Linked DNA regions of Homo sapiens: all the other regions are linked to region 6. The links come from fine-mapping of genetic effects on gene expression. A gene starts in region 6. Each other region holds a variant in brackets. All regions are shown on one strand. Distances are between the middles of the regions.

Region 1 (5,083 bases), 120 kb before region 6:
AAAACAAGGATACTTCCAGCCTGTACAGAGGTCTTCTATGTTATTATCTGAGTATCGGCGAAGTGTGGATTGTATTAAACTTTTATTAAAATAGTGGTGATGGTATCCTTTCATGAATTGAGAGTTAGGATGGGGTAGTTTCAGAATTCCTCCAAGATATTAACTTCAGATCCAAACTCAGGCTTTGCTAGCAGGTGAGACTATATCATGCAAACATCCAGGCTTTAGAGACAGAACTAGGATCAAATATTGGTACCACCAATTCAATGATGGGATCCTGGCTTACCAGGTGTGAAGTGGTATCCCAGTGTGGTTTTGTTTTGTATTTCTCTAATGACTACTGATGTTGAGCATTTTTTCATGTGCTTTTTGGCCATTTGTATATCTTCTTTGGAGACATATCTATTCAATTTTTTTGGCCCCTCACCCCTTTTTTTTAAGAGACAGGATCTCACTTTGTCACCTAGAATGGAGTGCAGTGGCCCAATCATAGCAGCATAGCTCATTGCAACCTTGAAATCCTGGTCTCAAGCAATCCTCCCACCTCAGCCTCCCAAGTAGCTGGGACTTCAGGGATGCACCACCACAACTAGATAATTTTCTTTAAAAAAATTTATGTAGAGATGGGGTCTTGCTATGTTACCCAGGCTGATCTTGAACGCCTGGCCTCAAGTGATCCTCTTGCCTTGGCCCCCCAAAGTACTAGGATCACAGGCATGAGCCACAATGCTTGGCTCCATTTTTAAACTGAGTAGGTTTTTTTTTTTTTTTTTGGTTGTTAAGCTGTAAGAGTTCTTTATATATTCTGAATATTAATCCCGCCTATTTTATGGTTGTCTTTTCACTCTCTTGATTGTATCTTTTAATGCACAAAAGTTTTAAATTTTGATTGTCCCATTTATCTATTTTTTCTTTTGTTGCCTGTGGTTTTGGTACCATATCTCAGAAATCTTTGCTAAATCCAATGTCATGATTTCCCCTTTTTAAGATTTTTTTTTTTTTTTTTGAGATGGAGTCTTGCGCTGTCACCCAGGCTGGAGTGCAGTGGCGCGATCTCAGCTCACTGCAAGCTCTACCTCCTGGGTTCACGCCCTTCTCCTGCCTCAGCCTCCTGAGTAGCTGAGACTACAGGCGCCCACCACTATGCCAGGCTAATTTTTTGTATTTTTAGTAGAGACGGGGTTTCACTGTGTTAGCCAGGATGGTCTCGATCTCCTGACCTCGTGATCTGCCTGCCTTGGCCTCCCAAAGTGCTGGGATTACAGGCATGAATCACCGCGCCCGGCCTATTTTAAGATTTTTATAGTTTTCCCTTCGCTCTTATGTTTAGGTCTTTGGTCTGTTTGGGGTTCATTTTTGCATATGGTATAAGATAATGGTCCGACTTCACTCTTTTGCATGTGGATATTCAGTTTTCCCAGCACCATTTGTTGAAAAGACTGTCCTTTCCCCTCTAAATACTTTTGGCACCCTTGCTGAAAATCAATTGACCATATACGGGAGAGTTTATTTCTGAGTTCTCTACTTTATTCCATTGGTCCATGTGTCTTTCCTTATTCCAATACCATGATGTTGTGATTATTATAGTTTTGAAGTAAGTTTTGAAATCAGGAAGTGTGAGTCCTCCAACTTTGTTCTTTTTAAAGGTTGTTTAGGGCCAGGCGCAGTGGCTCACGCCTGTAATCCCGATACTTTGGGAGGCCGAGGTGAGTGGATCTCATGAGGTTAGGAGTTTGACACCAGTCTGGTCAACACAGTGAAACCCTGTCTCTACTAAAAATACAAAAATTAGCCAGGCACAGTGGCTCACACCTGTAATCCCAGCATTTTGGGAGGCCGAGGCAGGTGGATCACGAGGTCAAGAGATTGAGACCATCCTGGCCAACCAACATGGTGAAACCCCATCTCTACTAAAAATACATAAATTAGCTGGGCGCAGGGGCACACACCTATAGTCCCAGCTACTCCGGAGGCTGAGGCAGGAGAGTCACTTGAACTCAGCAGGCAGAGGTTGCAATGAGCCGAGATCACGCCACTGCACTCCAGCCTGGGAGACAGAGTGAAACTCCATCTAAAAAAATTAAAAAATTTAAAAAATTAGCTGGGCGTGGTGGCGCACACCTGTTGTCCCAGGTGCTTGGGAGGCTGAGCCAGGAGAATCACTCGAACCTGGGAGGCAGAGGTTGCAAAATGAGCCAAAATCACATCACTGCACTCCAGCCTGGG[C/T]GACAGAGCAAGACCCCATCTCAAAAAAATAAATAAAAATAAATAAAAATTAAAGGTTGTTTGGCTATTTGGGGTCCCTTGAGATTTCATGTGAATTTTAGGATGGATTTTTCTATTTCTGAAAAAAATACCATTGGTCTTTTTTTTTTTTTTTTTTTTTTTTTTTTTTCAGAGACAGGGTCTTGCTATGTTGCCCAGTCTGGACTCAAACTCCTGGGCTCAAGCAATCCTCCCATCTTAGCCTTCCAAGTAGCTGGGAATACATGTGCATGCCACCATGCCTGGCTTCATTGCAATTTTAACTGGGATTTCATTACATCTGTAGATCACTTTGGGTAGTGTTGTCATCTTAAAAATATTAGCTTCCCAGGCCAGCTCATGCCTGTAAATCCCATCACTTTGGGAGGCCAAGGTGGGAAGACTGCTTGAGCTCAGGAGTTTAAGAACAGCCTGGGCAACATAAGGAGACCCCATCCCTACAAAAAATTTAAAAATTAGCCAGGAGTGGTGGCTTACACCTGTCATTTCATCTACTCAGGAGGCTAAGGTGGGAGGATGACTTGAGCCCGGGAGGTCAAGGCTGCACTGAGCCGTAATTGAGCCACTGCACTCCAACCTGGGCAACACAATGAGGCTGCCTTAAAAAAAAACTGTCTTCCCATCTATGAACACAGGATGTTTTTCCATATATTTATGTCTTCTTTCTTCTTTAATTTCTTTCAGCAACGTTTTATAGTTTTCGGTGCACAATTTTTTGCTGCCTTGGTTAATTCCTAGGTATTTTATTTTTTTAGAGGCTAGTGTAAATGGAATTGTTTTCTTTTCTTTTCAGATTGTTCATTGTTAATGTATATTAACAGAAACACAACTGATTTTTGAATGTTGATTTTGTATCCTGCAGCTTTGGTAAATTTATGTTATTCGCTCTAGCAGTTTTTCTTTTTTTTTTTGTTTTGTGGTATCTTCAAGGTTTTCTACATGTAAAGTCATGTCATCAGGGAACAGAGATAATTTTACTCCTTCCTTTCCCATTGAGATGCCTTTTATTTCTTTTTCTTCCCTAACTGCTCTGGCTACAATTTCCAATACCATGTTGAATAGAAGTGGTGAAAGGCAGCATCGTTGCGCCTATATATATTTTTACAAAACACAGTCATACACCATGAGAGCAAACAAAGCTGAAGAGAAGACCCATTTGAGTCCTTATTCCATAAAAAATTGCAAGAGGGTGAAAACAGGAACCATAACAGGATCTGCAGGTCTTTGCAAGCCCTGAGAAAGTCACCTCAGACTTCTGTCTGGAAAGCCTTCTCTCCAGCCTATCTGCCCATATCTAGCTCCCATCCAACGTCCTCTCCAGAACCTTCTTTGCTGCCGCCCACAAGAGAGGCCCTCTGATGGGCTCCAGCACCTGATAGTACAGTTCACACAAGGACTGAGCCTTCAAGACCATTCTAATGTTCTGAGAACTTTTTCAAATCTTACCGGCTTAATGAGCCGTTAAGTATCTTCTTGGCCCCCAACCCCAACCTAAACTGGAAGCTGCTTGGAGGCAGGACATCTTCATGTCAAGAAGGCCTGGCTTTATGCTGATGAGGGCCCTTTATAAGTAAAATGATGATTATAAACCCTTCTGAGGCCCCCAGGTGACAGGCACTGGGCAGTCTGGTGAGATGAGAGCTCGGTTCCCAGCTGTCCCCGGTTCTCCCTTCAGACTTAGAAGCAGGAGAAATGTGCATTATAATGGAGTCTAGAACAGGGAGTGTGAACTCAGATTTTGGTGAGTTCTAGTTCTGCCAATTACTGTGTGACTACAGGCAATAACTTGACCTCTCCAAGCCTTTTGGACTGCTGCAAAATGCTGCAATAACAGCACTCTCTCACACAGTGGCTGTTAGAGGAGACTAAATAATACAGAAAACACCTGACAGAGCCTCTAATACAGAGGACCTTTCCTTGCTGTTACTTCTAACTTTATTACAGCTCTTCTGAAAGGAGCTCTGCCAGTGCCCTCCCCTTGCACCCCCCTCCTCTCCCATTCCCGTGTCACCACTGCCACCTACAGGTAAACAGCCATCCACAAGCTACACCCATCAGATTCAAAACCCTGGGAGCTCTAGCTTTCTGGATTTCTGGGTTACTGAGCCAGGAAGACCTCCATGCTTCCAGAAGGAAGCCCCCAAACTTGGCTTGCCCCACCTGTAGGGTAAAGGAGCAGGCACACCACAATTTCCTTAAGAATCCAAGCATTAAAACTCCAAGAGGTCTTAGAGACCATCTAGTAAAAAGATTCCCCATAAGTCCACATTTCCTGGACCCCAGGAAGTGGGGCATGGGGGAGGAGGGGCCACGGTGTTGTTGCAAGTTCCCTATGGGCAGTTTCTTGCCCTTAAAGCTACCATTGAACCACTGGTCTCAAGTCTTCAAGGAAATGGCTCTCATTCTTTTCACCAAAAAAATGGAGAAACAGAAGAGAGAATGAAAACCTGTTTATTTGGTTTGAGCCAGGTTCTTGACAGACATTACCTCATTTAACCCTACCATCCCACGCCCCAGCCGCCAGGAAGGTTCTCTCTCTCTAATAGGAAGAAAATGAAGCCTGGTGGGGTGACTAGCCCCACAGTGTGCAGAGAGGAGGTAGCAATACTGCCAACCACATGACCCAGGTCTTCCTGGTAAGCCTGGCCTTGGACCCTGATCCATCCTCAGGTAGAGGGTCACAGAGGCAAAGAAGACCCTGGCCTCCACAATAGACGGTCCAGAGTATTGGATGCAGCCCACCCTCCTGATTTTTAGGTGAAGTCTAAAGACCCTCCTGATTTTTAGGTGAAGTCTTAAGTGTAAAAGAGAGTGCTGG
Region 2 (5,083 bases), 21 kb before region 6:
GTGGCAGTGGAGAGACAACTGTGGGGTGAACACCCATGAGTTTGTAGGGCCTGCTGTCTTCAGAGCAGCCTCGAGACCCTCAGCCAGCCTCATGCTTCCACCCAGCAGGCAGAGGTTTTGGGCAAGTTAGACTTGAGAGTAATTGAGAGAGAAGCATTGTGAGAACAGATGTCCTGGGTGAGGTGCCCCCTGGGCAGCCATCTGCCTTCACCCTGGAGGAAACATGCTTCCAGCGGGGACTGCAAAGTAACACCCTGGTTGGCCCTTTCCCCACAACACCTGCCCTGTGCAGTTGGGGAAGCGGCTGTCACAGATGAATTCACAGATGAATCGGCAGAGTGCGCTGATACAAAGGTGGGCTCTGCTCTGAGTGTGGCCTGCACAGCCAGGGGACTTCCAAATGCTCCTTCTCTGTTCAGCTCCCTTTGTGTTCACGGTATAATGACACACACTTTCTCATTGGATTCTTTTCACTCACCAGCTTTTTGTCGATAAAGATACGATTGTTAATGCTGTCGGGGCATCGCACGACATCCACCTCCTGAAGATTGACAATCGAGAAGATGAGCTGGTGACCAGAATCAACTCTTGGTGTACACGTTTAATAGACAGGGTGAGTCAATCCCAAGCCATCCTAGCAGGCTGGATGAACTTTTCTAGCTGACATGGAAATCCTCCCTAGGTAGTGGATAGAATTTTCATTAAGGAATGAAATGAAGGAAGAAATAAAATTAAGGATTATAGAATTCCACACTGAAGACAACATTGCCCAGAGACTTTAAAACCCATGGGCTTCATCATTTTCCTAATTCCTACCTCAAATATACAGAGATCAGCAGAACCTGGGGAGGCGCTGAAGCAAATGAGGTTTGCAGATCTAAAGGAACTATTTTCCCCTTCCCTCAAACTGGATTCAGTGAAAGATATTAACCAATGATCTGATGTAAGGAATCGGGCTTTGGTTTCACTCCTCAGATTCACAAGGATGAGATCATGAGGAACCGCAAGCGCGTGAAGGAGATCAATCAGTACATCGACCACATGCAGAGCGAACTGGACAACCTGGAATGTGGCGACATCCTAGACTAGATGAATGTCAGCCACAGGAGCTTCTTCAAAACATAGCACCAGCCCCAGCCAGGAGAAGGAAGTGCACACGCCTCACCCGCACCTCTAGAGAGTTGCTGGGCATCTCTCAACCGCGATCCCCAACACCATTCTTCCCCCACCCCTGGAAAAACTTCCAAAAGTAGAGAAAATAAAGGACTCATTTCACATTTCCCCTACTCATAAAAAAAAAAAAAAAATCAGCTGGGTGCGGTGGTTCACGTCTGTAATCCCAGCACTTTGGGAGGCCGAGGCATGCAGATCACGAGGTCAGGAGTTCGAGACCAGCCTGACCAACATGGTGAAACCTTGTCTCTACTAAAAATACAAAAATTAGCCAGATGTGGTAGCGTGCACCTGTAATCCCAGCTACTCAGGAGGCTGAGGCAGGAGAATCACTTGAACCTGGGAGGCGGAGGTTGCAGTGAGCCAAGATCGCACCACTGCACTCCAGCCTGGGCGACAGAGCGAGACTTCGTCTCAAAAAAAAAAAAAAAAAAAAAAAAAAAAAAAAAAAAATGTTCATGTAGGAACAAGAGAAAGAGTTTGAGATGAACAGCCGGTCCCAGGCCAGCTGACAGAGCAACTCCCAAGGGCACTGCCATCAGCTAGATTCTTGGCTGTGGCATAAAGTCAGACACGTGCCCCTGCCGTTTCCCCTGCCATGCCTAGGCAGGCTGCCAGCCACAGGCAAAAGGAGGCCGGTGTGGGCTAAGACCTTCTCTGCTCTGGGTGCTGAGGGGCAGGGAAGCAGGAGGAGAGGCTGCAGCTCCCACCACAGTGCTGGGGCCTGGGCCTGCCCACCAAGGCTGAGGTTAGCCACAAGGACCTGAGGACCCTCCAGAAGAGCAGAGTGCAGGCAGGGCATCCCAGCTCCACCATGTCACCCCCGCAGCCCTGGTGTCATCTGTGACAGTACCTCACAGTGCCTTCGAGGAACAGTTCAGGGAGACAGTGCATGGGAAGCGTGGAGAGGCACCCAGCATGCGATCAGTGCCCTGTGAGCAGGGTTGATGCCATTACCTTACTCAGGCTGGCAAGGACACAGGGCTGAGAGAGCCTGTCTGCCTGAGAACCACTCTTCCCCCCTGCCCTCTTACTGGCCTGACACCAGAAAGTAGCGCCTGCCTCCTGGGACACTAGAGGTGGCTATGTCAGGAGGACCCTTAGGACTCCTGGGTGGGAGATGAGCGGAAACATGCACATCAGGTGACCTTGTCAAGCCTGTCCAGGCTTTTAGCCCAGAAACAACTTCTATTTTCTACTTTCTAGAGTAAATCATTTGTTTTAGAACAGTAGGAACAAATAGAAACAACCAGCTTAGACCACAATTGTTTCAAAAGATTGTTTGATTAAAAGCCAGCCAAAAAAAAGCCTTCAGGCTGAGGCTGAAGAACACAAATAGAGTTGTCTGTGGATTACATGATTGTTTCCCCAGTGCAAGGTTCCTGACCACAGGCAGCAGATATCCAAACACGCCATGGGAGATAAGCTGTTTAACCCTCTGGAACCTAGACAAAACAGGAAGAATGGAGAAGTGCAGAGGCATACGTGAAAACAGGGCTCAGCACATTTCCAGGGTGGAGAAATATTTAATAAAATCAGAGTCGAGAGAAAGTCACTTGCACAATTCATCTCCTACATTCACTGCTGGCCAGGCCAGGGGCACCTGGGTTGAAATCAGGCTGACCTCCGGACAGCCGTACTAGCGCACTGTGTCTCGGGGGGAATCTCAGGGTGACGCTGAGGCCGAGTCCCCAAAAGCCAAGGAAGCCAGCCCCACAGGCTGGGGAGCCCTGAAGGCCGGGGGAGCTGTGGCTGCACTGCCTCTATCCTGCTGAGTGTGCTCTGCCCAGGCCTCACTCCTTCAGGAGCTTGTGCTTGACTGTGGTGCTCTCGGAGCAGAGATGGATGAAGAGGGTGCCGGCGGCGGTGCGGGCCCGCAGCTCCTGCAGCTCATAGTCATGGGCCCACTCAATGTTGCCCCACTT[C/T]TGGATCTGAGGGAAGGACAAGACAAGTTGCTGGGTGAGTGGCCAGTGCCTGGCTGCCTCCTGACCAAAGCCACGTTCCATTCCAATAGGTTGGCTGAGGGCAACAGGTTTGTATCTTGCCAAAACACATGAGACATGCCTAGGGGGAGGTGGCAGGTAAGAACACCCAGGTACGCCAGACACGGTGGCTCACGCCTGTAATCCCAGCACTCTGGGAGACCGAGGCAGGAAGACTGCTTGAATCCAGGAGTTCAAGACCAGCCTGGGCAAATATGGTGCAACCTCGCCTCTACAAAAAGGTTTAAAAATTAGCTGGGTGTGGTGGGGGTGCACCTGTAGTCCCAGCTATTTGAGAGACTGAGGTAGGAGGACTGCTTTGAGCCCAGGAGGCTGAAGCTGCAGTAAGCCAAGATCACACCGCTGCACTCCCACTTGGGCAACAGAGCAAGACCCTGTCTCAAAAACACCACACACACACACACACACACACACACACACACACACACCCCACCACCCCACCCCCAGGGAGCCGGAGCAGGCACCTGTGCTCTCTGTGGCATGGATGGTCTGGAAGAAGTGCAGTCCAGGCCCAGGCCCAGGGCCAGTGGCTGCCCACCCACCACTGGGCAGGCTGGGTACCAGAACCACCCATGTGACTTCTTTGAGGAGGCCTTATGTGCCATCCCTTCTCCTACACTTCCTCCCAGAAAGCCTGTGAATGGACAGCCTCTCCAAGTTGCCTTGCCATGCTGGGCTACAAGTGCCCCCCAGCGCCATGTGGGTGGAATAACTAAATCAAGTAAGGCCACGCAGTGGCTTCAACTCTGACTCTTGTGGTAGTCACAGAACTACAGATGCCTCTGCTCTGCACACTGGGGACAAGTTGCAGATTCTCTGTCTGGAGCTCTAAAAACAAGAGGGAGGAACGCTCAGACACACGATGTGGCTGTCCAGACAGTGTAAGTCCAACCAAACCTTGCTGGCTCCTCCCTGGCTAGTTGCCCAAGAGGCCTGGCCTGGCCGCCCCAGCTCATCCAGGAACTCAGAATCCACCATGCTACACAAGCTATTTGAACTTCTGGGCTGCCTGGTCCCAAACTGTACAATTGTAATATGTCATCTGAAGAGTATTCCATACTTTCATTGTATACCATCACATACATAATTCAGGTTATTCCTCTGTTTGTAGAGGATCGAAACCAAAGTTCAGAGAATGATGGCCTGGCTTGGGTCCCATAGTCAGAAGCAGAGCCCAGACTGGCTTCCCACCAGCCCTACAAGTCACCCCCTTCCTATGTAATCAGTTCTGACATCCAGAGAATAGTAGCGGGCCTCCTTTGTTATACAAAAATAGTTTTTTCCCTGGCATTTTTCTGAGCAGAAGACTACAAGAACTAGGGAAATACATCACAAAAAGTTTTGTGTTTTTTTGTTTGTTTGTTTTTACCATATTAGGGACCAATTCATAATAGCAATTAACCTTCTGAGGTTGGTGGAATAACAATAAAAAGACTGCAAAGATGGCTATAATTTTCAGAGTTAAAAAATGCAAACCATACTGTGGCAAAACCTTAATTCTGAGCCCACTAAATCAAAACTTGTATACAAACAGCAGCTACCCCTATGCTCCTCTGCCAGCCAGATAAAATGTCAGGGTATGAAGGCTCAGCTGATGAAGGAGCACAAACGGGTTCTCAGTCATCTTGGCAGGGCCTGTTCTGCAGGCTTTATCAAGCCCAGATGGTCTTTATCCACCCGTGAACCTCCTTGTGCAGAGTGAGGCCTGACGGCCTTGGCCCTAAAATCACCAGACCTGGCTTCAAACCCCAGCTGGCACATTTTCCAGAGGTGCAACCTTGCACCTCCATTTCCTTCTGTGTAAAACAGAGATAACCACAGCTCCTACCTGCCCAGGCTGCTGAGAGGAGGTGAGATGGATACAATGCAGGAACACAGCGGTAGCACTTACTGTTATTTTTTTATTG
Region 3 (5,083 bases), 93 kb before region 6:
ATCTCCTGGAGAAAGCATAAGGCAGAAGCAGGTCTCAAACTGGGGTATGTTCTGTCCCCAAATTCTGAGTCCTCTCCAATCCACTGTAACAGTCACTTTAAAAAACCCTTTCTTCTTTCCATCTTGATATGGGTCCAAAGTGCTGCTAATTAGAGCTAGGGAGTTAGGAAGGCAAAGCAGTCTCTATAGGGGTCAGATAGTGGCAGACCAGCCTGCTGCTGGGGTGCGACAGAGGGCTGAATCCTGCTGCCTGGAGAGTGCAGAAAAGGCCTCAGCAAGGTAACAACACTTGGGTATGGAGAGAATGTGGATGATCCAAAAGAGAATGTAGGAATGTGAAGGCAAAGGAGAGAAGGAGCAGCCAGTGCAAATGCATGGAAAGGGGAGCCCGAAGGCTGAGCTGCCTCCAGATCTCTCTTGGGGATTGCTGCTGCAGCCTCCTCATTGTTATCACTTCCTCCACTCTCTCTTTCCATAGTCTACACTCCACACTGCCCCAGGTGGTCTGCACCAAACAGAAAATCTGATCTCATCTTCCCCCTAAGTATTAAAAACCTCCCAGATCTCCCCACTTCACTTCAGATAAGGTCTACACTCCTCAACCTGATCCTCAGGGTGACTATCTCTAACCAGCCCTGACTTCCACTTCCTACCCCTTGCCAGGGCCCCACGTGAACATCCAGAGCCCAAGGTCTAGCTGCCACAAACATACAGGCCCCTTTTCTCCAATGTTCTCTCTTCCTTGCACATCCCTCCCCCTCCAGGTAAACTCCTACCAGAGAGCAGCTCAGATGTCACCTCCTTTGTGAAGGCAGTCCTTACTCTGCCCCTCTCAGTGCATGCTGCTACATTATCAGAGCACCCCCACACTGCACTTGAGGGTCTTCCTCTGGATGAGAAGGTGGGCTCTAGGGCAGGGAGAGGCAGCAGACAAGGTGATCAATACAAGGTGCTTATTAACACTACTAGCGACATAAATAATGCAGCCCCCGGATAGGCAGGCAGGGGTTGTGCAAGCCATCATGGTGCCTGGCACAAAGTGGCTGCCGTGAGAGGCTGCCTGGTGAGTGGACAGGTGAGGACGGCAGGATGCTGAGCAAAGGGATGCTGAGCAGAGGGCTCCTTCCTGACCTTGGCTGAGGCAGCCTTGCTGCGGTGCCCTTCATGAGTCTGTAAGCTCACGGCTGCAGGAGGCTAATTCAGTGCCTAAAAATGCTGTAACAGTTTCTTTGAAAGGTTCCAGACAAATGGAAAATGACACCGACAGCTTGACGCTCCCTTCACCTCCATGGCTGCAAACCTAAAGAATATTTATGATCCGTGGGATCAGAGATTTGGTGTCTTAGAAGCAAAGAAAGGTCACAAGACAAACTAACGCAGACCATCTGCTCTTGGGTGGGGAAAGAGATTCCCATATTTGGAGTTATTCTCCCCAAAGCACCAGGCACCTGCTTCTCTTGTGAAAATCTATGAGCTAACACAATGATTTTTATTTAACATAGTATAAAACCAACGTCTCCTACAAGGAGAGGTGAAAAGCTGAACACAAACATGCCGACTAACAGGGAGCTATGGAAGCCTTCCGGCGGGGAAACAGGAGGTCCGCACTTGTGCTCTCCATATTAAATGCTTAGCGACAAGGCCTAACAGAGGAGAACAAATGCTCCCAGAGATGTCTGCCTGATGGCAATGGAGAAAAACTCATCTGGGGCTAGTACTAGTGGAGCTCCCCTCCTCCTCCATTTTTCATAGGCCGGATGCTCCTGCAATTCCCAACACCGTACTCCTGACATTGCAGCAGATGCTGCCCGCACTGCCGCCGCCACACTAATCCTTCATCCTCCGGGGCCAATGGAAATGTAGGATTTCCCATTAATCAGGGCCGTGGACACCAAAATAGCTCATCTGACCTTTGCAAATACCAAAGGGTGGATTTAAAGCAGAAACTGGCAAAAGGTAATGCAAAAGTCTTTAGCTTTCTTTTCAGAGATGATTTTATGCAGTCATTAGCTAAGAAACAGATTGCCAGTAGGACCAACAAGGTTAAAAATTAGGTGGAAAGAGCCAAATGTTTCACCACACACACACA[T/TAC]ACACACACACACACACACACACACTCTCTCTCTCTCTCTCTCTCATTCCTTGATGAATTATTTAACTTACATTAAAAATATATATATGGCTCAGAAATCTCTTGGCATTGGCACTGGATTGAAAACAGTGTCAAACTGGGAAGTAGCTGTTCTCTGAGAGAACACTTATACATCAAAACAAACATGGATTTCAATGTGCAATACCAGGTGGACTTCATCAGACAATACAGACCACAGATCTGCTATTGATGAAAAGATAGACCCTCTCTTAGGGAGACCCACATTACATAGGATGAAACTTCATTAAACTTCCTTATCACATACATACCCATCTTCTCTCTATTTACAGCCTATACATCTTAGTTAATCATTGATATTTTGTGAGCAAAAGTGACCTTAATATTTCACGGAGACTTTCTCTGCATAGCTATAATTCAGCACCACATAAAACTGGATCTTAAGTATCTTAATGAAATGTAGGACTCTTTCCATTTAAAAAAAGAGAAAAAGTAATTATAGAAAACTGGAAGAAAAAAGAAGAAAAGCTAGTCACATAAGTCTGCCACCACCCTAATTCAATCTTTTTTCTTTTTTTATTTTTTAAAAAAGATGTCTATTTTTGAGACAAGGTCTCAGTGTCACCCAGGCTGGAGTGCAGTGGCACAATCATGGCTCACTGCAGTCTCAACCTCCCGGGCTCAGGTGATCCTCCCACCTCAGCCTCATGAGTAGCTGGGACTACTGGGGTGCACCATCACGCCTGCCTGGCTAAATTTTTCATATTTTTTGGTAAGACGGGGTTTCATCATGTTGGAGACCAGGCTGGTCTCCAACCCCTGGGCTCCAGCAATCTGCCTGCCTCAGCCTCCGAAAGTGCTGGGATTATAGGAATAAACCACCGCACCCTGCCGTAATTCAATTTTGTATAAGAGCTTTATTGAGATATAATTTACATACCATGAAATCTACCCTCTTGAAGTGTACAATTCAGTGGCATTAGTACATATATTCACAGAGTTGTGCAACCATCACCACTATGTAACTCTAGAATATATTCATCATCCTAAAAATAAATCCTGTACCTGTTAGCAGTCACTTCCCATTCCCCCTCTCCCAGCCTCCTACAACCACTAATCTGCCTTTTCTCTATATAGATGTGTCTATTCTGAACATTTCTTATAAATGCAATCATACAATATATAGCTGTTTGTGTCTGGCTTCTTTCATGAAACATAATATTTTTACCCAATTCTATTTTTTATTAGCACTTTGTTAGGTTTCTTTCCCATCTCGATTCTGATATATTTAAAACTTAATCCTTTGCTAACATTATAAAGTTAAGTCTGTTTTTTGCTAAACCACAAGTTACTGACCCTAAGCTAGGCTCATGGGTGCAGAGGCTGCAGGAGGCCTGTTTTGCTCTCTAAACATCAGCTCATTATATTGGTCTAAGTATTGATCTAATTTTTTTTTTTAAGACAGAGTCTCACTCTATCGCCCAGGCTGGAGCGCAATGGCACAATCTTGGCTCACTGCAACCTCTGCCTCCTGGGTTCAAGCCATTCTCCTGCCTCAGCCTCCCAAGCAGCTGGGACTACAGGGATGTGCCACCACGCCTGGCTAATTTTTGTATTTTTAGTAGAAATGGAGTTTTACCACGTTGGCCAGGCTGGTCTCGAGCTCCTGACCTCAAGTGATCAGCCCTCCTCAGCCTCCCAAAGTGCTGGGATTACAGGCGTACGCCACCGTGCCAGCCTAAGTGTTGATCTAATTTTAACAGAAGTGCCTCAGGGTTAGGAAAGTACTAACTAGTTATACCAGCCCTCAGGACAATCCCACACAGTAAATACAATCTTCAGCAAGGAACAGGAAAGAACACTAGAACTGGGATTTAAATAGGAAGAGCTACTACCATCCAGTGAGCTTTTCAGTTTTATACGGTGGGGGGGTCTCACTATATTGCCCATGCTGGTCTTGAACTCCTGGGCTCAAGTGATCCTGCTGCCTCAGCCTCCCAAAGTGCTGGGATTATAGACATGAGCCACCGTGCCCAGGCCAGTGAGCTTTCTGTTTTGCAAATATTGTAGGCTAAATTGTGCCATCCTCAAGTTCTCATGTTGAAGCCCTAAGCACCAGTACCTCACAATATGACTGATTGAATTTGGAGACAGGGTCTTTAAAGAAGTGATTAAGTTAAAATGGGGCCCTAATCCAATCATGCATGCACAGAGGAATGACCATGTGAGGACACAGCAAGACAGTAGCTGTTGGCAAGCCACGGAAAGAGGCTTCTGAAGAAGCCAAACCTGCAGCTTGATCTTGGATTTTCAGCCTCCAGAACTATGAGAAAATAAGTTCGGTTAAGCCTTCCAGTCTGTGGTATTTTGTTATGGTAGCCCTAGCAAACGTCTCATTTAATGCCCCGACACATACTTTTAAAAATAGGACTTCTATCCTCATTTTACAGATGAGGAAGCTCAGGCTCAAAGAGGTTACTGGAGCTGGGACTCAAAGTGAAGTCTGATTTTGAAGATTTTGTTCTTTCCAGAAAGTACAACAAGTTGTATTCATTTTTAATTTCTTTTGGTAGCATGAGGGGTCACACTGTTAAAATAAAGAAAAATCTTTGTTCTATTTTTTTTTAAATATATACTCTTTCCAGAATATACCTGGTTACAGTCCAAATTCAGAATCCACTCATTTCAGAAATACTTTTGATGGAGGAAAAGAAAATTAATGAGTCAAGTGCTTTACATGCATTATCCAATTTGAACATTAAACAATTCTAAGAGATATATATTAGTCATAATTGAGGAAACTAAGGCTCAGAGACATTAAATGACTGTATCATGATACAATGTTTGTCTTTCATTAAGTTCCTTAGTCAAATAGTTTCATTTTGAAAGACCAAGTGTACTAAATTCTGTTTATCAACCTTTCACTGAGACTTGCTGTACTGGATAATCTTGATACCAAGATAAATACGCCCTAGT
Region 4 (5,000 bases), 82 kb after region 6:
CAGAAGACCAAGCGCAAGAGGAAGGCCCGCACCGTGCTCAAGTCCACGTCAAAGCTCATGACGCAGATGCGCATGGGCAAGAAGAAGCGGGCGATGAAGGGCAAGAAGCCGTCCTTCATGGTGATCCGCTTCCCAGGCCGCCGTGGCTACGGCCGCCTGCGGCCGCGCGCCCGGTCACTCAGCAAAGCGTCCACGGCCATCAACTGGCTCACAAAAAAGTTCCTCCTCAAGAAGGCCGAGGAGTCGGGCAGCGAACAGGCCACAGTGGACGCCTGGCTGCAGCGCTCGAGCTCCCGCATGGGCTCCCGCAAACTCCCCTTCCCGTCGGGTGCCGAGATCCTGCGGCCTGGGGGCCGGCTCCGGAGGTTCCCCCGCAGCCGCAGCATCTACGCGTCAGGCGAGCCCCTGGGCTTCCTGCCCTTCGAGGACGAGGCCCCATTCCATCACTCGGGCTCCCGCAAGTCGCTGTACGGGCTTGAGGGCTTCCAGGACCTGGGCGAGTATTATGACTATCACCGCGACGGCGACGACTACTACGACCGGCAGTCACTCCACCGCTACGAGGAGCAGGAACCCTACCTGGCGGGCCTCGGCCCCTACAGCCCGGCCTGGCCACCCTACGGCGACCACTACTACGGGTACCCGCCCGAGGATCCCTACGACTACTACCACCCCGACTATTACGGTGGCCCCTTTGATCCGGGGTACACCTACGGCTACGGCTACGACGATTACGAACCCCCATATGCGCCCCCGTCGGGGTACTCGTCTCCTTACAGCTACCACGATGGGTACGAGGGCGAGGCGCACCCTTATGGCTACTACCTGGATCCCTATGCGCCGTACGACGCGCCATACCCACCCTATGACCTCCCATACCACACTCCCTACGATGTACCCTACTTTGATCCCTACGGAGTCCACTACACCGTCCCCTATGCCGAAGGCGTCTATGGCGGTGGGGACGAGGCCATCTACCCCCCCGAGGTGCCCTATTTTTACCCGGAGGAGTCGGCTTCGGCCTTTGTGTACCCCTGGGTACCACCGCCCATCCCGTCGCCCCACAACCCGTATGCCCACGCCATGGATGACATCGCCGAGCTGGAGGAACCAGAGGACGCGGGCGTAGAGCGTCAGGGGACCTCCTTCCGCCTGCCCAGCGCCGCCTTCTTCGAGCAGCAAGGCATGGATAAGCCCGCCAGGTCCAAGCTGTCCCTCATCCGCAAGTTCCGCCTCTTCCCGCGACCCCAGGTGAAGCTGTTTGGGAAGGAGAAGCTGGAGGTGCCCCTGCCACCCTCTCTGGACATTCCTCTCCCCTTGGGGGATGCGGACGAAGAAGAGGACGAGGAGGAGCTGCCCCCGGTTTCCGCTGTGCCCTACGGCCACCCTTTCTGGGGCTTCCTCACGCCGCGCCAGCGCAACCTCCAGCGCGCGCTGTCGGCCTTCGGCGCCCACCGGGGCCTGGGCTTCGGCCCTGAGTTTGGCCGCCCCGTGCCTCGCCCTGCCACCTCGCTTGCGCGGTTCCTCAAGAAGACGCTGTCGGAGAAGAAGCCCATCGCGCGGCTCAGGGGCAGCCAGAAGGCCCGGGCGGGCGGCCCTGCTGTCAGGGAGGCGGCCTACAAACGCTTCGGCTACAAGCTGGCTGGCATGGACCCCGAGAAGCCCGGCACGCCCATCGTGCTGAGGAGGGCCCAGCCACGCGCTCGCAGCAGCAACGACGCGCGCCGCCCGCCCGCGCCACAGCCCGCGCCCAGGACCCTCTCCCACTGGAGCGCGCTCCTGTCTCCGCCCGTGCCCCCGCGGCCCCCAAGCTCCGGGCCCCCGCCCGCGCCGCCGCTCTCCCCGGCGCTCTCGGGCCTGCCCCGGCCGGCCTCGCCCTACGGCTCCCTCCGCCGCCACCCGCCGCCCTGGGCCGCCCCAGCGCACGTGCCACCGGCGCCGCAGGCCAGCTGGTGGGCCTTCGTGGAGCCCCCTGCCGTGAGCCCGGAGGTGCCCCCCGACCTACTAGCCTTCCCAGGGCCCCGACCCTCGTTCAGGGGCTCCCGCCGGAGAGGGGCGGCTTTCGGCTTCCCCGGGGCCTCTCCACGGGCGTCGCGGAGGCGAGCTTGGTCACCGCTGGCCTCGCCCCAGCCCTCGCTGAGGAGCTCGCCGGGCCTCGGCTACTGCTCACCCTTGGCGCCCCCGTCGCCTCAGCTGTCCTTGCGCACGGGCCCCTTCCAGCCGCCCTTCCTGCCCCCGGCCCGCCGGCCCCGCTCGCTGCAGGAGTCCCCAGCCCCACGCCGAGCCGCTGGGCGCCTGGGCCCACCCGGCTCGCCGCTGCCGGGCTCACCCAGGCCGCCCTCGCCGCCCCTGGGGCTCTG[C/T]CACAGCCCGCGGCGCAGCTCCCTGAATCTGCCCTCGCGCCTCCCGCACACGTGGCGGCGCCTCAGCGAGCCACCCACTCGGGCTGTGAAGCCGCAAGTGCGCCTGCCCTTCCACCGACCGCCCAGGGCCGGGGCCTGGCGGGCGCCCCTGGAACACCGGGAGAGCCCGCGAGAACCCGAGGACTCAGAGACGCCCTGGACTGTGCCCCCACTGGCCCCCAGCTGGGACGTGGACATGCCTCCCACCCAACGCCCACCCTCCCCCTGGCCAGGAGGTGCAGGCAGCCGCCGAGGCTTTTCCAGGCCACCCCCTGTGCCGGAAAACCCCTTTCTCCAGCTCCTGGGCCCTGTGCCATCCCCCACCCTCCAGCCTGAGGATCCAGCTGCTGATATGACCAGGGTCTTCCTGGGCAGACACCATGAGCCGGGGCCTGGACAGCTCACCAAATCAGCTGGCCCAACCCCTGAGAAGCCTGAAGAAGAGGCCACCCTGGGGGACCCCCAGCTGCCAGCAGAGACCAAGCCTCCAACCCCAGCACCTCCCAAGGATGTCACTCCCCCCAAGGATATCACTCCCCCCAAGGATGTCCTCCCAGAGCAAAAGACATTAAGGCCCAGCCTCTCATACCCACTGGCTGCGTGTGACCAGACCAGGGCCACATGGCCACCATGGCACCGCTGGGGAACACTGCCCCAAGCCGCAGCCCCCTTGGCGCCCATCAGGGCCCCAGAGCCCCTGCCCAAGGGGGGTGAACGGCGCCAGGCAGCCCCTGGGCGTTTTGCTGTGGTCATGCCTCGTGTGCAGAAGCTGAGCTCTTTCCAGCGAGTTGGGCCTGCAACCCTGAAGCCTCAAGTCCAGCCCATTCAGGACCCCAAGCCAAGAGCCTGTAGTCTTCGCTGGTCCTGCCTCTGGCTTCGGGCAGATGCCTATGGACCCTGGCCACGAGTACACACCCATCCCCAGTCCTGCCACCTGGGCCCTGGAGCTGCCTGCCTGTCCCTTAGGGGCTCCTGGGAGGAGGTCGGCCCGCCAAGCTGGCGGAACAAGGTATGGAGGCACAGATTACACGGAGGGTTTGAGGGTTCTGGCCTAGGAAACAGGGCAAGAGAGACAGCCTGAGGAGCCCTGTGCAACCTTGGAGAGAGGCTGCTTGCTGGGGCCTCAGTCTCTGGGTCTGTAAGTTGGGGAGAACAGCCTGGACCTCCCAGAACCTCTGGAGGGTTGAACAAGGGGATGCCCAGCACAGGCAGGCCCAGGACAGAGACGTGGGAAACTGCTTCCAGGTCACTCTGGGGAAGGATCTTTGTTCATATTCGGCTTGGGCCCTGGGCAGCCCTGCCCTGATCCAATCTGGATGACAGGTCTGGCCCCTAACTTCCCCTCAGAGATTTTGGCCAAGCCAGATGTGAAACTGCCGGACATGCCTATCCATCCTGTTCCACCGCACATCCAGGTCTCTGCAGTTCCTCCTGCCTCCTACTGACCCTCCCCCAAATTAAAGCCTCCTGTTTCCTCAGGGTTTTTGCTGCCCTTTGAAGTCCCCTGGGCTGCAGGATTCTGGAATAGGTCAGGGTGAGGGGCTCAGGATCCAAACTTCCAGACTCCTCATTGCACAGAGGGAAAACTGAACCAGGAGTCCTTCTGGAACCCCATGAGGGGTGCAGGGTAGGCAGCCCTTCGGATGGGTGCCCAGCCCATGCCTGGCTGCCACACTCAAGGTGGAACTCGAGCCTGATGCTGGGTGGCCCTTGGCTGAGGTGCGTGGTCACCGGAGCCTCTCTCAGGATGCCGGGGTGGTGGGCGGGGCAAGCAGGGGCAGCAGGTGCGTCTCAGCCTCTGCAGACCATGCCTGGCGGAGCAGGCAGCCAGCCGGGCCCAACAATGGCAACCGGGGCAGCCTGGCTGCTGAGGGGGCCCTGGCCCCGGCGGCGGATGCCCCGCGCTGTGTGGGCTGCAGCGTTGCGGGAGCGGGGCGCAGGGCGTCTAGGGGTGAGGGGCAAGGATGCCTGGGTCCTCCTTACCCTGGAATACGTGAGTGGCTGAATTATTCAGGGTCTGCGGCTGCTGGCAAGCACGTGGGCAGATGGGTGGGCCGGAGGCCAGGGCCGAAAGGGTGATACTCGCTGTGCCCTACTTAGCAGTCCAGCGACAGGCATGCAGGGTTCCTTCCTGGTGTCCTCTTTCCTCGCCTGCTCAGGGTGCAGCTGGGATTGGAAAGGCTGAGGGTGTACACGTGTGTGCTCCCAGTCATGTGGATCCTGCGCAGGCCTGCATGCCTGAGCATGTGTGCAAGTGTGTACCACAGCCAAATGACGAAAGCTAGTGTATGGGGTCTGAGCAGATGTGGCATCCCTGGGGGTCAGGGTTGTTTGCCCACCCTCTGCCCATGTGCACAGACGTGTGCTCACAGAGGAGACCCTGCAGCCCAAAGGTGGCATCAGGACTTCCATTCACCAGACCCCCAGCATAGGGAGGGACCCAGCTGTGCGCCCACATGTATGTGCCAAGTGGACAGGTAGAGCATGTGCCTGCACACCGTGTGCCTCCAGCCGGGCCCCACAGGCCTGCGTATGTGCCCACAGGCCTACAGGAACACCTGTGTGCCTGGGAGTTGTATGAGCTGTAAATGCCATTGAGTG
Region 5 (5,083 bases), 56 kb before region 6:
CTCACTGCAACCTCTGCCTCCTGAGTTCAAGCAATTCTCCTGCCTCAGCCTCCCAAGTAGCTGGAACTACAGGCATATGCGGCCACGCCTGGCTAATTTTTTTTATTTTAGTAGAGATGGGGTTTCACCATGTTGCCCAGGCTGGTTTCGAACTCCTGAGCTCAGGCAATCTGCCTGCCTCAGGCTCCCAAAGTGCTAGGATTATAGGTATGAGCCACTGCGCCCAGCATTTTTTTTTTTTTTTTTTTGAGATGGAGTCTCACTCTGTCGCCAGGCTAGAGTGCAGTGGCACGATCTAGGCTCACTGCAACCTTCACCTCCCGGGTTCAAGTGATTCTCTTGCCTCAGCCTCCAGAGTAGCTGGGACTACAGGTGTACACCACCACACCCAGTGAATTTCTGTATTTTTAGTAGAGACGGGGTTTCACCATGTTGGCCAAGATGGTCTCGATCTCTTGACCTCGTGATCTGCCCACCTCGGCCTCCCAAAGTGCTGGGATTACACGTGTGAGCCACCGCACCTAGCCACTAATTTGTATTTGTATTTTTTATTTTTTTGGCATGAATCTCATTTATTGAAAACATTATATTTCACCTTTCTCAAATTGAAGACTGCAAAAAATAAAAGCAGTGCTTTACTGAGTTCTCATTAACCTCAGGAGCAGCAGCGCTGCCTCTCCACGCTCCAGGAAACCCTGGCTCCCGCGTGCCACATCTGTCGCACCTCACTTTACAAAACAGTCCTGAAGCTTAATCAAATAAAACTATTGTACATTAGAAAAAGAGAGCTGGGTGTAGAAAAGCCAGGTGTAAGTTCCCTTTAAGCAAAGGCTGCTCTGCAGTTGGGGCATCTTTGCTTCCTCCAGGAAAAACAGCAGATGAACCCAAAGGGGAACAGGATGATGGCCAGGAGGATTCCCAGGAAGGTGAAGCAGTCCTCCAGCACCCTATCCCTGCAGACGGGACAGCCTCTCATGATGGCGATGGCATTGGCAGGGTACCAAGTGATAGTCCAGCTGTGGTCATTGTAGACCCTGGGGTGGTGGTTGGGTATCCCTGTGATGAGGTAAGGGGAGGGCGGGCAGCAGCAAGGGATGGGCAGCAGGGATGACGCTGTAGCCATGCAAGCTGCATGCATAGTTGCCCTGGCCGGCCCCTAGGTTGTAGGTGGGCAGCCACTCCCACAGCAGGGGCGTGTGGTCCATGGCAGCCCGGCTCAGGTCAGTCGGTCCTGGCAGGGGACACAGTGGGGGACGTGGCAGGGATGCAGCAGACTGGCTGGCTCAGGCTCCTCTGAGGCACAATGCCTCAGCACCGATTTTTATTTTTTTTTATTTATTTATTTATTTAGAGACAGAGTCTTGCTTTGTCACCCAGGCTGCAGTGCAGTGGCATGATCTTGGCTCACTGCATCTCTGCCTCCTGGGTTCAAGTGATTCTGCTGCCTCAGCCTCCTGAGTAGCTGGGACTACAGGGACACCAGCTAATTTTTGTATTTTTATTATAGAGACAGTGTTTTTCCATGTTGGCCAGGCTGGTCTCAAACTCCTGGTCTCAAGCAATCCACCGGCCTTGGCCTCCCAAAGTGCTGGGATTACAGGTGTGTGCCACCATGCCCAGCCACAGGACCAAATTTTTTTTTTTTTTTAAACAGTCTCACTCTGTCATCCAGGCTGGAGTTCAGTGGCGTAATCTAGGCTCACTGCAACCTCTGCCTCCTGGGTTCAAGCGATTCTCCTGCCTCAGCCTCCAGAGTAGCTGGGATTACAAGCGCGTGTCACCACGCCCAACTAATTTTTGTATTTTTAGTAGAGACAGGGTTTCACCATGTTGGCCAGGATGGTCTCCATCTCTTTTTTTTTTTTTTTGAGATGGAGTCTCGCTCTGTCGCCCAGGCTGGAGTTCAGTGGCGCAATCTCGGCTCACTGAAAGCTCCGCCTCCTGGGTTCACGCCATTCTCCTGCCTCAGCCTCCCGAGTAGCTGGGACTACAGGTGCCCGCCACCACGCCCAGCTAATTTTTTGTGTTTTTAGGAGAGACAGGGTTTCACTGTGTTAGCCAGGATGGTCTCCA[C/T]CTCCTCACCTCCTGATCTGCCTACCTTGGCCTCCCAAAGTGCTGGGATTACAGGCGTGAGCCACCACGCCTGGCCCACAGCACCAATTTTGAAAACTTCTTTCACTTCTGTATTATTTCAGTTCTTTTAATGAGCATATTCTTTTTTTTTTTTTTTTTGAGATGGAGTCTCGCTCTGTCACCTGGATTGCAGTGGCGCGATCTTGGCTCACTGCAACCTCTGCCTCCCTGGTTCAAGCGATTCTCCTGCCTCAGCCTCCCAAGTAGCTGGGACTACAGACGTGCACCACCACGCCCAGCCAATTTTTTGTATCTTTAGCAGAGACAGGGTTTCACCACATTGGCCAGGATGGTCTCGATCTCTTGAACTTGTGATCCGCCCGCCTCGGCCTCCCAAAGTGCTGTGATTACAGGCGTGAGCCACTGCGCCCATCCTTAATGAGCATATTCTAATTTTATAAATTTTAGAAATCATTACAAAAGCAAATATGGAAAAAAGGAGCATATAAACAACAGAGCTGTACGTGGCTTCTGGGAAAACCTGGCAGACAAGTTTGGCCTCTAGAGTGTTACATATACAGTACATATTTACTTATACATATGTGTTTTTCAGAACTCTCCTGGCTGCCAGTGACAGAAACCAAACTCTGGCTTACCTAGCAAACAGAATGAACCAGCTGTGTAGCTGGCGTGGGTGGTCCTCACAGGCCACAGGGGCCAGGCACTTCCGTGATATCAGGAACCTGCCTCGTTCTTGCATGGATGACTTATCTCATCCCCTACGTATGGACATTTGGGAGCTTTTCTGCCCCTTACGTGCCTGAGGGATTCCTTTGGACATATATACAGTGTGGAGATAGATTCCATGTAGAGAAATTATAGTTCAAAGGGCACTGACTTTAAATATTTCAAAAAACATTGCCAAACAGTGCTCCAAAAAGGCTGAATGAGGCAATCAACCCTCCTACCAACAGAGACACATGTTTTCATTCTATTTATCACACTGTGGAAGGAAGGCCTCTGTCTGTGTCCTGTGTCCTAAGGTGGACCAGCCTCCTGGAGAGTCCCTGGCCTGGCCCCAGAAACAGCACAAGCGAGTCTCCTGCCCAGCCAGGTCCAGCTCACTTCCACCCCAGCAACTTTTTAGCTCCACCCTAGTAAACCTATTAGGTCTTTCTGTGGCTCTGGGTGGCAGTACCGATCCCCGCCCACCTCATAGGGACACAATGTTCCTCGATGCTCAGCCGACATCTCCAGGGTGCCTGCGTACTCCAGGGCAGGGCAGAAGAGTTCTAGGTCCCTTTTGTGTGGTTCTGCCTCACTCCTCCTGTACACTAGCACAAAACTCTGACCCTAACCTGAGACTGAAATCACCTTCCATTATTTCAGACATCCTCCGCATAGACAACCTCTGGCAGTTTGAGAACTTGAGGAAGCTGCAGCTGGACAATAACATCATTGAGAAGATCGAGGGCCTGGAGAACCTCGCACACCTGGTCTGGCTGGGTAAGGCCCTTTCCTCTGTGTGTCCACCCTAATCGAAGGTGACACCCTGACAAGGTTATTGCCTTCCCAGGAGACAATAATTGTGTGCGACACTCAGCTGCTGGCCCATCATTAGCCAGGGTACGGCAGAAGCTCTGCCTGCTGGGAGCAAGAAAGCTGCTATTTTTTAAAAGCCTAGGGCTTGTGCTGGGCAAAGTGCAGCAAAGATGTGCTCAGACACAAGACCACAGAATATTCTGCTCTCATCTGCCCAAACTTTCAGTCTGGATGGGGTACAAAGGGGCAGCTGTGGACTCCTATTTAATCTAGACTCAGGCTGACAGATAACCATCGACAGGTAACCATTGGCTGGTGGGACCCAGATGAAACCAGGAATAATCGTCACAGAGGCTAGTGTGTATCAAGCACTTAACTACATGCTAAGTGGGGCCTATATGCTTTCCATATGGGTCTTTCAGTTCACACAGCATCCCCGTCATAGAGATGAGCAAACTGAGGTCACCACACCACATCAGGTCTCACTGCCAAGGCCATGGAGGGTTTTGATGAGATGTTCCTTCTGCTGGCCTCTTAGGAGCATCCTCACATCTGGTGAGGGGCAATGGGTCCCTAGCAGGGAGAAGGTGATGGGCCTGAGAGCTCCTTATGCCCTGTCTTGTTTAACCCCCATTTTAATCCTAAGAGTTGGGCATCTGTTATAATCCCAATCTACAGAAGAGGAGCTGAGACTCAGGGAGCCCCAGGCACTTGCCCAAAGCTGCACGACCAAGAAGTATCAGAGCTGGGACTCACCCCCACGCCTGTCTGACCTCACAGCCCACATTCCCTCCATCCTATTAGGCGGTCTTCTGGTAATAAGGGCACCCTGGGGCATCGTGAGCCTTCCAATTTGCCAAACACTCCCATCCTCCTTTGTGCTGACAATTGCAAGCCCATAGCAAACCCACAGGCAGGGTTATGCTGCCATTTCACACATGCAGCAACTGAGGCTCAGGGAGGCTGACCAGCTTGATGGAGTCATGTGCTACAGGTAGCAGGAGCAAACCACAGCCAGGTCCTCTCACACCTGGGCCCAGGTCTCTTGTCCCAGGTTTCTCATTTCTCTGCACTCTAGCACCCATTAATGCTGATTCATGAATGCCATGGTTTTAAGCAGGAGCTCTCTGGCCTGGCTGTCTCTCAGACATAAAGCAAGTACCACTGAGCCCCATGACAGCTCCCTCTTTCTGTCTGCTTACCCAGAGAGAAACCTGAATACTGGTCTTGGTTCCCTCCCTAACAGAAGCTTATTTTCCTACTACTTGGAGCCCCTGCACACACACTTCCTAGTCAGCTCATTCCCCCAACCCCTTGCAGTGGCCATCCACGCTTCCAAGGGTCATTGGACTGATGGCCAGTGCTCCCTGGGATGGGGGTGCTAGAGCAGTGAGGGCAGGCTCTGTTAAGAGGTCACACTGCCCCTCAGAGTATAGGCAGAAGCTGGTCTTTGTCCAGCCATGGCACT
Region 6 (5,083 bases):
GAATGGCGTGAACCCGGGAGGCGGAGCTTACAGTGAGCCAAGATTGCGCCACTGCACTCCAGCCTGGGTGACAGTGCAAGACTCTGTCTCAAAAAAAAAAAAAAGCATGCATGGGCCTGATTTATGCACCTCCCTTCTCATTCATTCATTCCTATTTTCTTTCACATTTGACTACCTACCATGTGCCAGGTACTTCCAAGAGCCTAACTAGTAAGTTTAGGCTTTTTAAAAAGGAAAAGAAGGCAGTAGATCAAGTGCCACCATTATGTAAAGTGAGCATCCACAAATCTAAATTAACCCTTTGTGGTCAGGCATGGTGGCTCACGCCTGTAATCCCAGCATTTGGGAGGCTGAGGCGGGAGGATCACCTGAGGTCAGGAGTTCATGACCAGTGTGGCCAACATGGTGAAACCCCATCTCTACTAAAAATACAAAATTAGCCACGTGTGGTGGCGGACACCTGTAATCCCAGCTACTTGGGAGGCTGAGGCAGGAGAATTGCTTGAATCTGGGAGGTAGAGGTTGCAGTGAGCCAAGATCACACCATTGCATGCCAGCCTGGGTGACAAGTGTAAAACTCCATCTCAAAATAAATAAATAAATACGTAAATAAATAAATTAATTAACCCTTTGCTTTTTGCCAACTTGGTGAACTCCTGAATGTGTCCCCTTTGCTATGCCTCCCTGGGATGCCCTTCCTTTCTCTTCTTTACTGGCCCTTCATGGCCCATTTCCAGGCCCTTCCCCTGAGTCCTGCAGGTGAAACTTCAGCTCCCTGCTGCATCCAGCCCCCTTCCCCATTTCTATAAAGTTATAGAACTTGGCTGGGCGCGGTGGCTCACGCCTGTAATCCCAGCACTTTGGGAGGCCGAGGTGGGCGGGTCACAAAGTCAGGAGTTCGAGACCAGCCTAGTCAATATAAACCCCATCTCTACTAAAAATACAAAAATTAGCAGGGCATGGTGGCAGACGCCTGTAGTCCCACCTACTTGGGAGGCTGAGACCACAAAATCGCTTGAATCTGGGAGGCGGAGGTTGCAGTGAGCCGAGATGGTGCCACTGCACTCCAGCCTCTGTGACAGAGGAGACTCCGTCTCAAAAAAACACAAAAAAACAGAAGAAGAAGAAAAAAAAAGAACTTGACAGCCAGAAAGATCCTCAAAGGCAACCTAGTACTTCAACGCATGGAGAAAAATGAGGAAGTAGTTGCATGCCCAAGATCACACAGACCTCAGAGGTTCAGCCAGCATCAGATCCTAGATTTGCACTCCTGCCACAATGCCAAACTGCCTGTGAAGTTCTGGATTTTCTAAAACAGGCAGTGTCAGGGAAAAGTCCCTCATACCTTGCTGTCACCCTGGACACGTTCTAGATACCCAACACTCTCCCACCTTTTTGCTGAACTCCTACTCATCTATCATGGCTCAGCTTAAACAAACGCCCTTTCACCCAAGACCCATTCTAAACCCTGAACATCCCCAAGATGGGAGTAAGCGATTCTCTGTGTTCTCACAGTTTCTTTGTATGTCCCTTATCAGGATATTATAAACCACAATTTAATCAGAATATTATAACCTTTTGCAATGAACAGTGAACATCATTCAGGTGGGCCTTTTTCTTCTTTAATTGAGCTTCTCTACCAATACATACAGGTGGGTCTTAAAGACAACCGTGCCTCCTGCCTCCAGCACAATAAAACTAATTGAATGGTGGGAGGGTGTTACTGCTCTTCATTCACTGAAATGAGTCATTCTCACTCTTACCCTGACACCACTCACCATCAGCAATGAAAGAGCCACTACTTCTAAGCTTCATCAGAGTTGGAGGTGGAGGTGACTCCACAGTCAGAGGTGGAGGTGTCAATTTCTATTTAGGAGAGAAGGCTGCAGATGGCAGAGGTTGTGGTAGGAGGGAAAGTCAGGAAACCTGCAGCAGAAGTGCCCGGGATGGAGGAATGAAGGCCCAGGTTCTAGGTCCCTTCTGGGCAGGTCTTGTGTTGGGCAGTGGAGACACGGAAAACAGTCAGACAGACACCACAAACCTCTGAGAGAGTCTGCCTGTAACCCAGACGAAGTCCTGATTCAGAGCCCAAACTTCCCCTTTTGAAAACAAAGATGACACCTGCTTTCCTTATTAAAGGGAGGGCAGCCATAAGCTTTGAGAAAACCTGCACAGGCCAAATATCAATTACTGTATCGTGCGTGACTCGCTGTTCCCTCTCGGGTCGTCTGCCCTTGTCTGGGCTTCACTTTCTCATCTGTAAAAAGACCTGACTGGCCTGCATAACCTCATGAGCCTGAACCCTGCCTCAGTTACTTCGCTTTGCACAGCCGAAGCCCGAAGCCCACCTTACCCCAGCTCGGCCCCAACCCAAAAGAACATGTCATGGTCTTACCTGTCGGCGGGGCGTAAGCCCGGGCTGGAGACGGGATGGTTGGCCCCGGACTCATAGAAGCGCTGGGGCCACCCGCCGGCCGATTCAGGAGACGGCGTCCCCCGTCCCGCAGCCGGAGGCAGCTCCTCCACATCGCGCCCGAGGGTCTGGGAAGATGCGAGACGCGAAACCTGGAGCAGGAAACACAGAGCGATGGGATCCCCAAAGCCGCACGGTCGGGCTGTACGGAAACCTCTCAACGCCTCCTCAGAGCCCTCAACCTCCCTTGGACGCCGCCATCTTCCGCATGACACCTACGGCGCGCCGTCGCCGCCGCGCGCCTCCTGCGCACACCCCCAGTCAATCAGCATCACAAACGCACCTCGCCCCGCCCCCTCCACGCCGCGCCTCGGCGAGGAGACTACAAGTCCCAGCGGGCCGCTCGCGCACCGCGCCACGTGTTTTCTCCTCCCGCCAATGGGCGGAAGCGCCGCCTGAGCCTGCTCCCGCCCCCCAGGCTCGCCTGAGCCAATCGGAAGGGGCGGGGTGTGTGTGTGTCTGTGTGTGTTTGTGTGTTGTGTGTCTGTGAGTGTCTGTGTGTGTGTATGTGTGCGCGAGGGCAAGTCGGGAGGGGGACCCAGCTCAGGACTGGGAGGCCCTGCTCGCAGGTCCCTGGGTCCCGGTGGCGGCCGGAGCGCTTGCTCCGCAGGCAGCGGGCGGGTGGTCGCCCCTCCCGCCCCCACCCCGCGCGTGCGCGCCCCGGCCTCTCCCTCCCCGCCACCCTCCTCGGCTCCCGCGCGGCGGCGGCGGTTCCTCTCCCACTCCCCCCAGCCCTGGCTCCGGGGGACCCCGCGATGCCGGTCCGCACCGAGTGTCCCCCGCCGGCCGGTGCCTCCGCTGCCTCCGCGGCCTCACTCATCCCGCCGCCGCCCATCAACACCCAGCAGCCCGGCGTGGCCACCAGCCTGCTCTACAGCGGCTCCAAGTTCCGCGGCCACCAGAAGAGCAAGGGGAACTCGTACGACGTAGAGGTGGTGCTGCAGGTGAGCGCCGGGCCGGGCCGGGGCCCGAGGGCCTCCTCGCGGCGCTCACGGGCCGTGCCCGCTTCGGCTCCTCGACCCCGCAGCCGCGGAACAGGCCCTCGCCGCCGGGGCCTCCTGCACCCGGCGCTTCCCACCCGGGACCTTCCCAGCCTGTGTCTCACACTCTCCGAGCCCCAGCCCTGACCTGCCCCTTCGGACCCAGAGCCCGTCGTGACCGGCTCCTGGCGGACCCCGAACACTCCCAGACTTGAAGCCCGTGACCGGCCCGTCTGGGATCCGGAAGCCCCTCATGACTCGGAGAAGGCCTGGGTCCTTCCTCCCCATGACCTGTCGTCCCTAGATCAGGGACTGCCACCAGCCCTTTTCAGACCCTGAAGAACTCTCCATTGGTTTCACCAGACTTGGGACCCTCCCCATGTCTGGGCCCACGTCAGATTCTCTCAGACCTGAGACATGTCCTCCTGCCCCTTCCTCAGTTCCAGGAATCCGCAGACCTTGGGGTCTTCCTCCTCCTGAGATCTCCTTAGGAGGGCTTCATCAGACCCCCAGACGGGGGAGCACCTAACCCGCAACTGATTGGTCAGGCCCTGGCCTCACCTCAAGACCAGGCACTCACTCCCTGAGTGCTGCTCACAGTCTGTTGGGATGTTGCCTCCTGGGTCCCCTGTTCCACTCACTGCTTCTGTCTCTTCATGGTCCAGGCACCCAGCTCCTTCCAGCTTCTCCACCCCCAGGCCTCCTGCCCCTGCTCTGGGACCATTTGCAGTCTTTTCCCAGTCTTCCTGGCCTCTATCCAGACTTCCCCACCCCATACCTTCGTCTTGCTCGATCCTGGTTCCAGGGGACCCTCTTTCCTGTTCTTAACTTTTCTCTACACAGGCACAGGGCTTCCTCTTAGTCTCTGGTACCCATGTACTGGGAAATCTAACTCACCCAATTTTAGTTCATGTCCAGTCGCCTCCCCCCATTTGACCTGGATTCCTGAATACCTGCTGCCAGTCCCTGATCAGCTTCGGAAGTACAGCTTCACTTGTCTGGGCCTTTCCCACACCTCACTCCTCTCAGGCTTGACACTTTTTGCCAGCTGAAATGGAGTGGCAGTGGTGAATACTCTTTTATCTCCCCTCCCCACAAAACTCTTCCTCCTCTATACCTACCCCTGCCTGACTAAGGACCCCTTTCCCCTTCCCTTTGCCCTTTTTTTCCTTAGTCTGACACCTCATCTGCCAGGCTGTTCCCAGAAGCCCCTCCAAACACCTGTCCCTCTGAAAGGCACTGTGTGCTGCCCCACTGCCTCCCCCCCGCCCCACCCCCCGGGGTGTGAGGGTGGAATGTACAGTATATTTATTCCTCAAGCTCTCCTTTTGGTCATTTAAAACAAATCTTAGTTTCACTTCTGAAGAGTAGGTCTCCCATCCAAAAGACAATGAGGGTGCCTTTTCTTTCTGCTAACTGCGGAGCACTCATCACTCTTTTATTCTCATACTGCTTTGTGGGAATAAATCATTTTCTCTGCTTACTTGAAACAGCATCGTCATGTTAATCATATCTTTGGGCTGTAAAGTTCTATCATGAGCCACGATAGTTATTATAATGGAAATACGATTGTGGCTGAAATATTTTTGTCTTCATAACTGTATGCCTAATGTAGTGATCCTCTTCTTAA

Which allele goes with the higher level. Alleles are on the strand shown, and positions count from the first base shown. SD is a standard deviation of normalised expression in the study named. Not every link is listed here.
As copies of C replace T in region 2, the expression in sun-exposed skin of the gene that starts at base 2,683 in region 6 goes up (moderate effect, 0.58 SD a copy in GTEx).
For the expression in skeletal muscle of the gene that starts at base 2,683 in region 6, TAC is the low allele of the variant in region 3 and T is the other (moderate effect, 0.67 SD a copy in FUSION).

Evidence for each region. PIP is the estimated chance that this variant, and not a neighbour inherited with it, causes the effect.
Region 1: its variant is fine-mapped to the expression of ATPAF2 in whole blood (INTERVAL, PIP 0.92).
Region 2: its variant is fine-mapped to the expression of ATPAF2 in sun-exposed skin (GTEx, PIP above 0.99).
Region 3: its variant is fine-mapped to the expression of ATPAF2 in skeletal muscle (FUSION, PIP 0.93).
Region 4: its variant is fine-mapped to the expression of ATPAF2 in whole blood (INTERVAL, PIP above 0.99).
Region 5: its variant is fine-mapped to the expression of ATPAF2 in fibroblasts (GTEx, PIP above 0.99).

Annotation. Positions count from the first base shown.
Region 1 is chr17:17,915,086-17,920,168 of GRCh38, forward strand. The region is part of intron 1 of TOM1L2 (target of myb1 like 2 membrane trafficking protein); the gene reads right to left. Among named protein-coding and RNA genes, the nearest start is that of TOM1L2, 55 kb to the right of the region's middle. The variant C/T (reference allele first, on the strand shown) is at 2,227.
Region 2 is chr17:18,015,583-18,020,665 of GRCh38, forward strand. It overlaps DRC3 (dynein regulatory complex subunit 3), which reads left to right. Exons shown (of 14, transcript NM_031294.4): 13 at 482-613; 14 at 976-1,307. The coding sequence ends at 1,089. It overlaps ATPAF2 (ATP synthase mitochondrial F1 complex assembly factor 2), which reads right to left. Exons shown (of 8, transcript NM_145691.4): 8 at 2,439-3,104. The coding sequence ends at 2,967. Among named protein-coding and RNA genes, the nearest start is that of ATPAF2, 21 kb to the right of the region's middle. RefSeq lists a silencer at 1,573-1,867. The variant C/T (reference allele first, on the strand shown) is at 3,099.
Region 3 is chr17:17,943,178-17,948,260 of GRCh38, forward strand. The region is part of intron 1 of TOM1L2 (target of myb1 like 2 membrane trafficking protein); the gene reads right to left. Among named protein-coding and RNA genes, the nearest start is that of TOM1L2, 27 kb to the right of the region's middle. The variant T/TAC (reference allele first, on the strand shown) is at 2,090.
Region 4 is chr17:18,119,002-18,124,001 of GRCh38, forward strand. MYO15A (myosin XVA) reads left to right here. Exons shown (of 66, transcript NM_016239.4): 2 at 1-3,408. Among named protein-coding and RNA genes, the nearest start is that of MYO15A, 13 kb to the left of the region's middle. The variant C/T (reference allele first, on the strand shown) is at 2,361.
Region 5 is chr17:17,980,366-17,985,448 of GRCh38, forward strand. It overlaps DRC3 (dynein regulatory complex subunit 3), which reads left to right. Exons shown (of 14, transcript NM_031294.4): 4 at 3,463-3,579. All of the region lies in intron 2 of LOC107984989 (a long non-coding RNA gene), which reads right to left. It also overlaps the pseudogene BRI3P3. Among named protein-coding and RNA genes, the nearest start is that of DRC3, 10 kb to the left of the region's middle. RefSeq lists an enhancer at 691-1,191. The variant C/T (reference allele first, on the strand shown) is at 2,074.
Region 6 is chr17:18,036,486-18,041,568 of GRCh38, forward strand. ATPAF2 (ATP synthase mitochondrial F1 complex assembly factor 2) reads right to left here and starts at 2,683. Exons shown (of 8, transcript NM_145691.4): 1 at 2,396-2,683. The coding sequence starts at 2,528. It overlaps GID4 (GID complex subunit 4 homolog), which reads left to right and starts at 2,923. Exons shown (of 6, transcript NM_024052.5): 1 at 2,923-3,417. The coding sequence starts at 2,980. RefSeq lists enhancers at 2,342-2,411, 2,422-2,471, 2,612-2,721, 3,872-3,931 and silencers at 2,832-2,921, 2,932-3,521.